Linked DNA regions of Homo sapiens. The protein of the gene in region 1 interacts with the protein of each later gene in a biochemical or structural test. Each region holds a gene or a part of one and is shown in the gene's direction. Other genes may lie near its edges.

The links.
Region 2: the proteins of DNM1 (region 1) and DNMBP form a complex in vitro, tested with the Homo sapiens proteins (one study listed by BioGRID).

Annotation. Positions count from the first base shown.
Region 1 is NC_000009.12:128,209,879-128,213,378, forward strand, and holds part of DNM1 (dynamin-1), read left to right. Parts: intron 1-3,500. UniProt on the Homo sapiens protein: Catalyzes the hydrolysis of GTP and utilizes this energy to mediate vesicle scission and participates in many forms of endocytosis, such as clathrin-mediated endocytosis or synaptic vesicle endocytosis as well as rapid endocytosis (RE).
Region 2 is NC_000010.11:99,884,223-99,888,244, reverse strand, and holds part of DNMBP (dynamin-binding protein), read left to right. Parts: intron 1-1,612; coding exon 1,613-1,945; intron 1,946-2,378; coding exon 2,379-2,558; intron 2,559-4,022. UniProt on the Homo sapiens protein: Plays a critical role as a guanine nucleotide exchange factor (GEF) for CDC42 in several intracellular processes associated with the actin and microtubule cytoskeleton.

The DNA of each region.
Region 1 (3,500 bases):
GGCCCCTGGGGAACTCTTTGCCCCATGGGGAGGGTGAAGCCAGAGGAGGTCCAGAGAGGGACCCCTAAGTGTAAGTCTCAGACTAAGGGCTCCATTCCCCAGGCCTAAGGGCAGTACTGATGTCTTCTATCATTCCAAGTTTTTGTTTTGTTTTGTTTTGTCTGTTTTGTTTTGTTTTGTTTTGTAAGACAGGATCTCACTCTGTCACCCAGGCTGGAGTGCAGTGGGGCGATCTTGGCTCACTGCAGCCTTGACCTCCCGGGCTCAAGCCATCCATCCTCCCACCTCAGCCTTCCGAGAAGCTGGGATGACAGGCATGTGTCACCACACCCAGCTAAGTTTTTTATTTTATTTTTTGTGGAGATGGGGTCTCACCATGTTGCCCAGGGTGGCCTCAAACTCCTGGACTCAAGTGATCCTCCCACTTTGGCCTTCCAACCAGGTTTTTATTTTATTTGTATTTATTTGGCATTATTATTATTATTATTATTATTATTATTAGAAACAGGGTCTTGCTCGGTCACCCAGGTTGGAGTGCAGTGGCACAATCTCAGCTCACTGCAACCTCCGCCTCCCAGGTTCAAGCAATTCTCCTACCTCAGCCTCCCAAGTAGCTGAGACTAACAGGCACCCGCCATCATGCCTGGCTAATTTTTGTATTTTTAGTAGAGATGGGGTTTCACCATATTGGCCAGGCTGGTCTCGAATTCCTGACCTCAGGTGATCTGCCCGCCTTGGCCTTGCAAAGTGCTGGGAATACAGGTGTGAGCCACCAGGTTTTTAGATGGCAAAAATGACACAGAGAGCGTAGGGAACCTGCCTAATGTCACACAGCAATTGAATCAGAGGCAGGCCAGGAACAGGCATGGGTCTCCTGCCTCCAGTCCACACTTTTCCATGTTTCTGTCTACCCTATTCCCCACCCCAGTCCCACCCATGTGTGCACACACCTACACACCTCAGTGTCTCCTCCTCTCCTCTTCCTGGGCGACTCTCTGGCACTCTTACCCATTCCCTGGAATGAAATCTGGCTAAGAAACAAGAATCATTTGGAGAAGTCAGCCCTGGCAACTTAGAATTACTATAAGCAACAGAAAAAAAAAAAGTAATATTGAGCTTGGAAGGTGTTCAAAATATTCTCCTGAATGGCATCTTCCCAGTGCCCTGGCCAGAGGCCCCAAGATCAACTGCCTGCCGGCTCCCCCATCCTCCCCATCTGACTTGGTCCCCATGCCCTGTGGATTCTGCCCAGTTCACTCCTGTCTACCTCAGACTCCAGCCCCTTTGTCTTAGCAGCAGAGGTAGTTTCCTCCCTTGCCCCCTAATCCATTCCCCGCCCGACAGCATGAAACTCTCTCCAGCCTCCCAATCTATCTTCCTAGCTTGAAGCCCTCTTTGGATTCCCTGCCCTCAAAACGGAACCCCACACCTGAGTTGGGCCCCTGAGGGCTGATTACCCAGTCCTGCTTCCTTTCAGCCGCTCCCTCCTGGTCTACCTGAATATATTACAGTGCGTGGGAAAAATAGGGCCGTGCCCTCTCTCTCACTCTCCTGGGGTGCTATTGCATATGCTGTTCTCTCGCCTGGAAGCCTCTTTTTTTTTTTTTTTTTTTTTTTTTTCTGTACAGACAGGGTCTTGTTATGTTACCCAGGCTGGTCTCAAACTTCTGGCCTCAAGCCAGGTCTCAAACTCCTGGCCTCAAGCTGGGGCTTGAACTCCTGGCCCCAAGCGATCCTCCCACCTCAGCCTCCCAAAGTATTGGGATTACAGGATTCCAGGTGGCTGGCCCCTGGAAAGCTCTTCACCCTGCCGTTGTCTTCCTCTTTCACTGGGTCTTTCCTCCAAGTGTCACATCAGCCAACACCTCCTCTGGGATGCCTTCTCTGATGACCCTCTCCTGCCATGACCTGGCCCTCCCTGTGTGGGGTGGGGCTTTGTTTTCTCCCAGATGGGAAGCTGTAGAGGAAGAAAGAAGCCCGTTGCCTTGGGCTCAGAGCTCCTGGCAGAGGGCGGCTCCAACCATGGTTAATATTAACAACGTATCTAGTCATGACTGTGTTATTCTTTAATCACTCTGTCTCATGTGCCTCTCTTCTTAGGTCAGGGAAAGGAGGCCACTAGCCAGGGTGGGGAGAAAAATCTCAGCGGGTGAATGCACCCTCACCCCCAACCTGGGTCCCCATTTCAAAGGAATGCAATGCTGTAGCACATAAAGCACCCAGCACATGGCACGTGCTCAGGAACTGGGACCTGCCAATGGGCACCCCCTGTTAGGTCCTTCCACAGCCAGGATCTCAGGGCATTCCCTCAGCAGCCCTAGGAGGCAGCTGCTGGCCTGTGTCCTATTTCACTGGTGGGCAAACTGAGGTTCAGAACAAGGAAATAATTTAGTGGCTGAGTTGGGGTTCCTTCTCATCAAGATGCTGGTGATAAGAAATAAGGATCCATAGCTGGGCATGGTGGTGCACACATGTAGTCCCAGCTACTTCGGAGATTGAGGTGGGAGGACTGCTTGAGCTCAGGAATTTGAGGCTGCAATGAGCTATGATCGTACCACTGCACTCCAGCCTGGGCAACACGGCAAGACCCGGCTGGAAGGAAGGAAGGAAGGAATCAAGGAAGGAAGGAAGGAAAGAAGGAGGGAAACAGAAAGAGGATCCAGATGTAGCTGCATAGTGAATAACTTTGGAAATGTCTATGATATGTTAGGTGAATAGAGAAGCTATCAAAGGGCTGATAACCCAGTGTGCATGTGAGCGCCTGAGAGGCATGTGATTTCACCTTTCTGAGTCTCAGTTTCTTCCCTGTAACATGGAGAAACTGATCACTCTGATTTCACACAGCCATGCAAGAATCGATCCAAAGGCTGTAGATTTTCTTAAACAGCTTTACTGAGGTATAATTTACATGCCATACCATTCACCCATTTTAAAGGCACAATTCAATGATCTTTGGTATATTCACAGAGTGGTGCAACCATCATCACTATCTAATTTTAGGATATTTCCGTCACCCTAAAAAGAAATCTTGTGCTGATGTAGATTTTCAAGTCCCTGGCAGAGTCCCTGGCTGACAGTCAGCAATTCATCAGTGTTTAGCCATGATGATGATGATGAATGATAAAATGTTTACAGTGGCTCCCATCAGGTGTTGGGATGACGATTGGTTTTTATTTTTTAAATATTTCACGTATTTTCTGGATCTTTTTGTTTGTTTGTTTGAGATAGAGTCTCACTCTGTCATCCAGGCTGGAGTACAGCGGCAGGATCTCAGCTCACTGCAACCTCCACCTCCCGGGTTCAAGCGATTCTCCTGCCTCAGTCTCCCGAGTAGCTGGGACTACAGGCGCACGCCACCACACCCTGCTAATTTTTGTATCTTTAGTAGAGATGGGGTTTCACCATGTTGGCCAGGCTGGTCTCAAACTCCTGACCTCAGGCGATCCACCCACCTCGGCCTCCCAAAGTGTTGGGATTACAGGAGTGAGCCACCGCACCTT
Region 2 (4,022 bases), on another chromosome or scaffold:
AGCAAGACTCTGCCTCAAAACAAAAACAAACAAACAAACAAAAAAAAAACCTTGAAGACAAATATTTAGGAATATAGTTAATATGTTACCAAAGAGATTTGAGATGGTAAAAACTACTTTAAGTCCGGGCATGGTGGCTCACGCCTCTAATCCCAGCATTTTGGGAGGCCGAGGTGGGCGGATCACCTGAGGTTGGGAGTTGAGACCAGCCTGACCAACATGGAGAAACCCTGTCTCTACTAAAAATACAAAATTAGCCAGGTGTGGTGGCGCACACCTGTAATCCCAGCTACTCGGGAGGCTGAGGCAGGAGAATTGCTTGAACCTGGAAGGTGGAGGTCATGGTGAGCCGAGATCATGCCATTGTACTCCAGCCTGGGCAACAAGAGCGAAACTCTGTCTCAAAAAAAAATTGCTTGAAGTACTGAAGACCAAATTTCTTGAGAAATTCTAAATCCATATATATGGGATTGTTTAATCCCTTGTAGAAAAAACTGGATGGGGTTTGATAGTTTTGTAGGGATCTATAAGTGGCCTGAGGGTGAAAAAGACATGCCCACCTGGGGAGCTGACAGGTGTTCTAATTGTACATTATTTTTAATAAGATGCTACTAAGTACTACTAAGTACCTGTTTATGTTCTTTATGTATTCATTGCCTTACCCTTAATGTCTGTGTGTTAGAAAGAATTAAAGAGAAAAATTTATAATTTTTGTTTTGAGATGGAGTCTCACTCTGTCACCCAGGCTGGAGTGCAGTGGCACAATCTCTGCTCACTGCAACCTCTGCCTCCCAGGTTCAAGCGATTCTCCTGCCTCAGCCTCCCAAGGAGCTGGGACTACAGGCATGCACCACCATACCTGCCTAATTTTTGTATTTTTAGTAGAGACGGGGTTTTGCCAGGCTGGTCTCAAACTTCTGACCTCAAGTGGTCTGCCCACCTTGGCCTCCCAAAGTGCTGGGATTATGGGCATGAGCCACCGTTCCCAACCAAGAGAAAAATTCTTTGGAAGATAAAAATGGGGGCTGTGTGCGGTGGCTGACTCCTGTAATCCCAACTTCTTGGGAGGCTGAGGCTGCAGTGAGCTGAGATTGCGCCACTGCACTCCAGCCTGGGTGACAGAGCAAGACTCCGTCTCAAAAAAAAAAAAATGGGTATTACCTAGTTATGATTAAAGGTTTATGAGTGTATGAAAGTTATTCCACCTCAGATTTATGTAACAACTAACTCTGGAGTTAAATTCAAGCTATGTAGACATGTACACATAATAAATGTTACCAGGTAAACTTCACGGCTGGTTTCTAATGCACACATCATATCAGTGTGCAGCTTAGCATTTATCACCTCAAGGAGGTCAAGTGAGATTAGTGTATTTTACATACTCCTTGATGTGGGAATTGAAGGTATCTAGTGAGAAGTCTTGTGGAGTATTTAAGTAGAGGCTAGTGATGGGTTAGTAGAATACTGTTGTAGATCTGTATGGGTTTAGCTTGTGTACTAGAAACGAAGTAGGTGGTTCAGGACACAACAAAGTCAGCCTTAAGAGTGACTTGGATAATCACAAATGTGGGATGCTGTCCAGCTGAGCAATGTGCCTTTCTCGTCCCTACAGAAGGAGAGGACAGAGCGGCTTGTCATCTCCCCCTTAAATCAGTTACTGAGCATGTTTACAGGGCCCCATAAGCTGGTACAGAAACGCTTTGACAAGCTCCTGGACTTCTATAACTGTACAGAACGGGCAGAAAAGCTAAAGGACAAGAAGACCCTGGAGGAGCTGCAGTCGGCCCGGAACAACTATGAGGCCCTGAATGCACAGCTGCTGGATGAGCTGCCCAAGTTCCACCAGTACGCCCAGGGCCTCTTCACCAACTGTGTCCACGGCTATGCTGAAGCCCACTGTGACTTTGTGCACCAGGCTCTGGAGCAATTAAAGCCACTGCTTTCGGTGAGTTTCTTACCTGTTCAGTGGGATGGTCATCTATAGCCTTTGCCTGGTATTTTTCTGGGAAAAATGGTAGCATGGTTTGAAAAATTATCTGAATTAGATAAACTGAATGTGTCGCTAGTTCATCCCTCAGGAAATCTTAATCCCTTGATGGTGTCATGAAGCCTGTGGCTTCTGAAACATCTTTTCCCTCTTGAGCAGTTCCCAGAAGAGCCAGCCAACCTGGCCCGCAGGCAGTGCCCTGGAGAACTTGTGTCTTGCATCAGGCTGCTGTGTCGGTAGCTCAGAGAATGAGCTGCAGCTGAACTTTAGCTTCCAGTGGTTCTAAGGAGACTGTCAATCCGGGATCTTTCATCATGTTTTCTTCTTTTCTCTGGGATCTTTTATCGTGTTTTCTTCTTTTCTCTATCTCTGCTCTTCCCATGGACCCCAGTTACTCAAAGTGGCTGGCAGAGAGGGAAACCTTATTGCCATCTTCCACGAAGAGCACAGCAGAGTTCTGCAGCAACTCCAGGTTTTTACCTTCTTCCCGGAGTCTCTTCCAGCTACCAAGAAGCCATTTGAGAGGAAAACCATTGACCGCCAGTCTGCTCGAAAGCCACTCCTGGGCCTGGTGAGTAGGGAACTGAGAGCAGCAGCCCCGCCTCGGGGTAAAGAGGGGGAACCCTGCAGCCAGGCCCCCAGGCCCAGATCCCACTATTGGAGTTTCTGTATTTCATAATAAATGGAGAATAGTGTTGCATTCTCACCCATCATGGGCTCATGCATTCGCCATTTTTTTTTTTGAGACAGAGTCTCATCTCATTCTGTTGCCAGGCTGGAGTGCAGTGGTGTGATCTTGGCTCACTACAACCTGCGCCTTCTGGGTTCAAGTGAATTCTCCTGCTTCAGCCTCCCAAGTAGCTGGGACTACAGGCACACGCCACTACGCCCAGCTAATTTTTCTATTTTTTAGTAGAGATGGGGTTTTACCATGTTGGCCAGGGTGGTCTCGATCTCTTGACCTTGTGATCTGTCCGCCTCAGCCTCCCAAAGTGCTGGGATTACAGGCATGAGCCACCATCCCCAGGCTTTTTTTGTGGGGGGGAGGGGATTAACCCAGTATTAATTCATTGGTTCATTAATTCAGGAAACTGATTTAAGGGTATATTAATTCTGCCAGGCCTATTTTTTATGATGTATTCATAAAAGTAATACAGCTAAACAGTTAATGGTTGGCTGCCTTTTTTACCTGGAGTTAGTCTTTTTTAACCTCAGTTCTTCCATATTTTAAAAATTAGCATAAGGCACACCAGCTAGAGGACTGCTGATACATCTTTGCTTACAATATTTTTGCCCCATATGATCCCATAGACATTAATTTATATTACCTTAAAAGGGAGAATTATGATTTTTTGAGACAGAGCCTTGCTCTGTCACCCAGGCTGGAATGCAGTGGTCTGATCTTGGCTCACTGCATCCTCCACCCTCCCAGGTTCAAGTGATTCTCCTGCCTCAGCCTCTTGAGTAGCTGGGATTACAGGCATGCGTTACCATGCCTGTATTGTATTTTTAGTAGAGACAGGGTTTCGCTATGTTGACCAGACTGGTCTCCAAGTCCTGGCCTCAAGTGATCTGCCCACCTTGGCCTCCCAAAGTGCTGGGATTACAGGTGTGAGCAACCATGCCCAGCCTGAATTTATTATTACCTTTTTTCTTATGACTTCCTTGCTTTCACAGGTGGGGAAGTCAAGATAGATGAACCTAACCGAGAATGTCCCTAACAAAATACAAGAAGACCTACTAATATCACTTAGATATTTTGATTTTTTTTAAGTGGCATTTTAATCACGTTTGTCACAAGAAAACAAATGTAAGAATAGGTGTGTGTTAAATTTTCTTAACTATAAAGGCATCAAACATTGCCTAAGGGCTCTTGATTTTTACCTAGCCACATGGGCTGGCTTCATCACAAAAACATCTGATGGGAGTGAGATGGGCAGTGACTGACTGTCCCTGCCTCATTTCTGAGACTGGCCACATGTTGGGATGAAATATGGCTGCTGGGGTAGTGGCCACTGAGAGATTTTTGTTAACG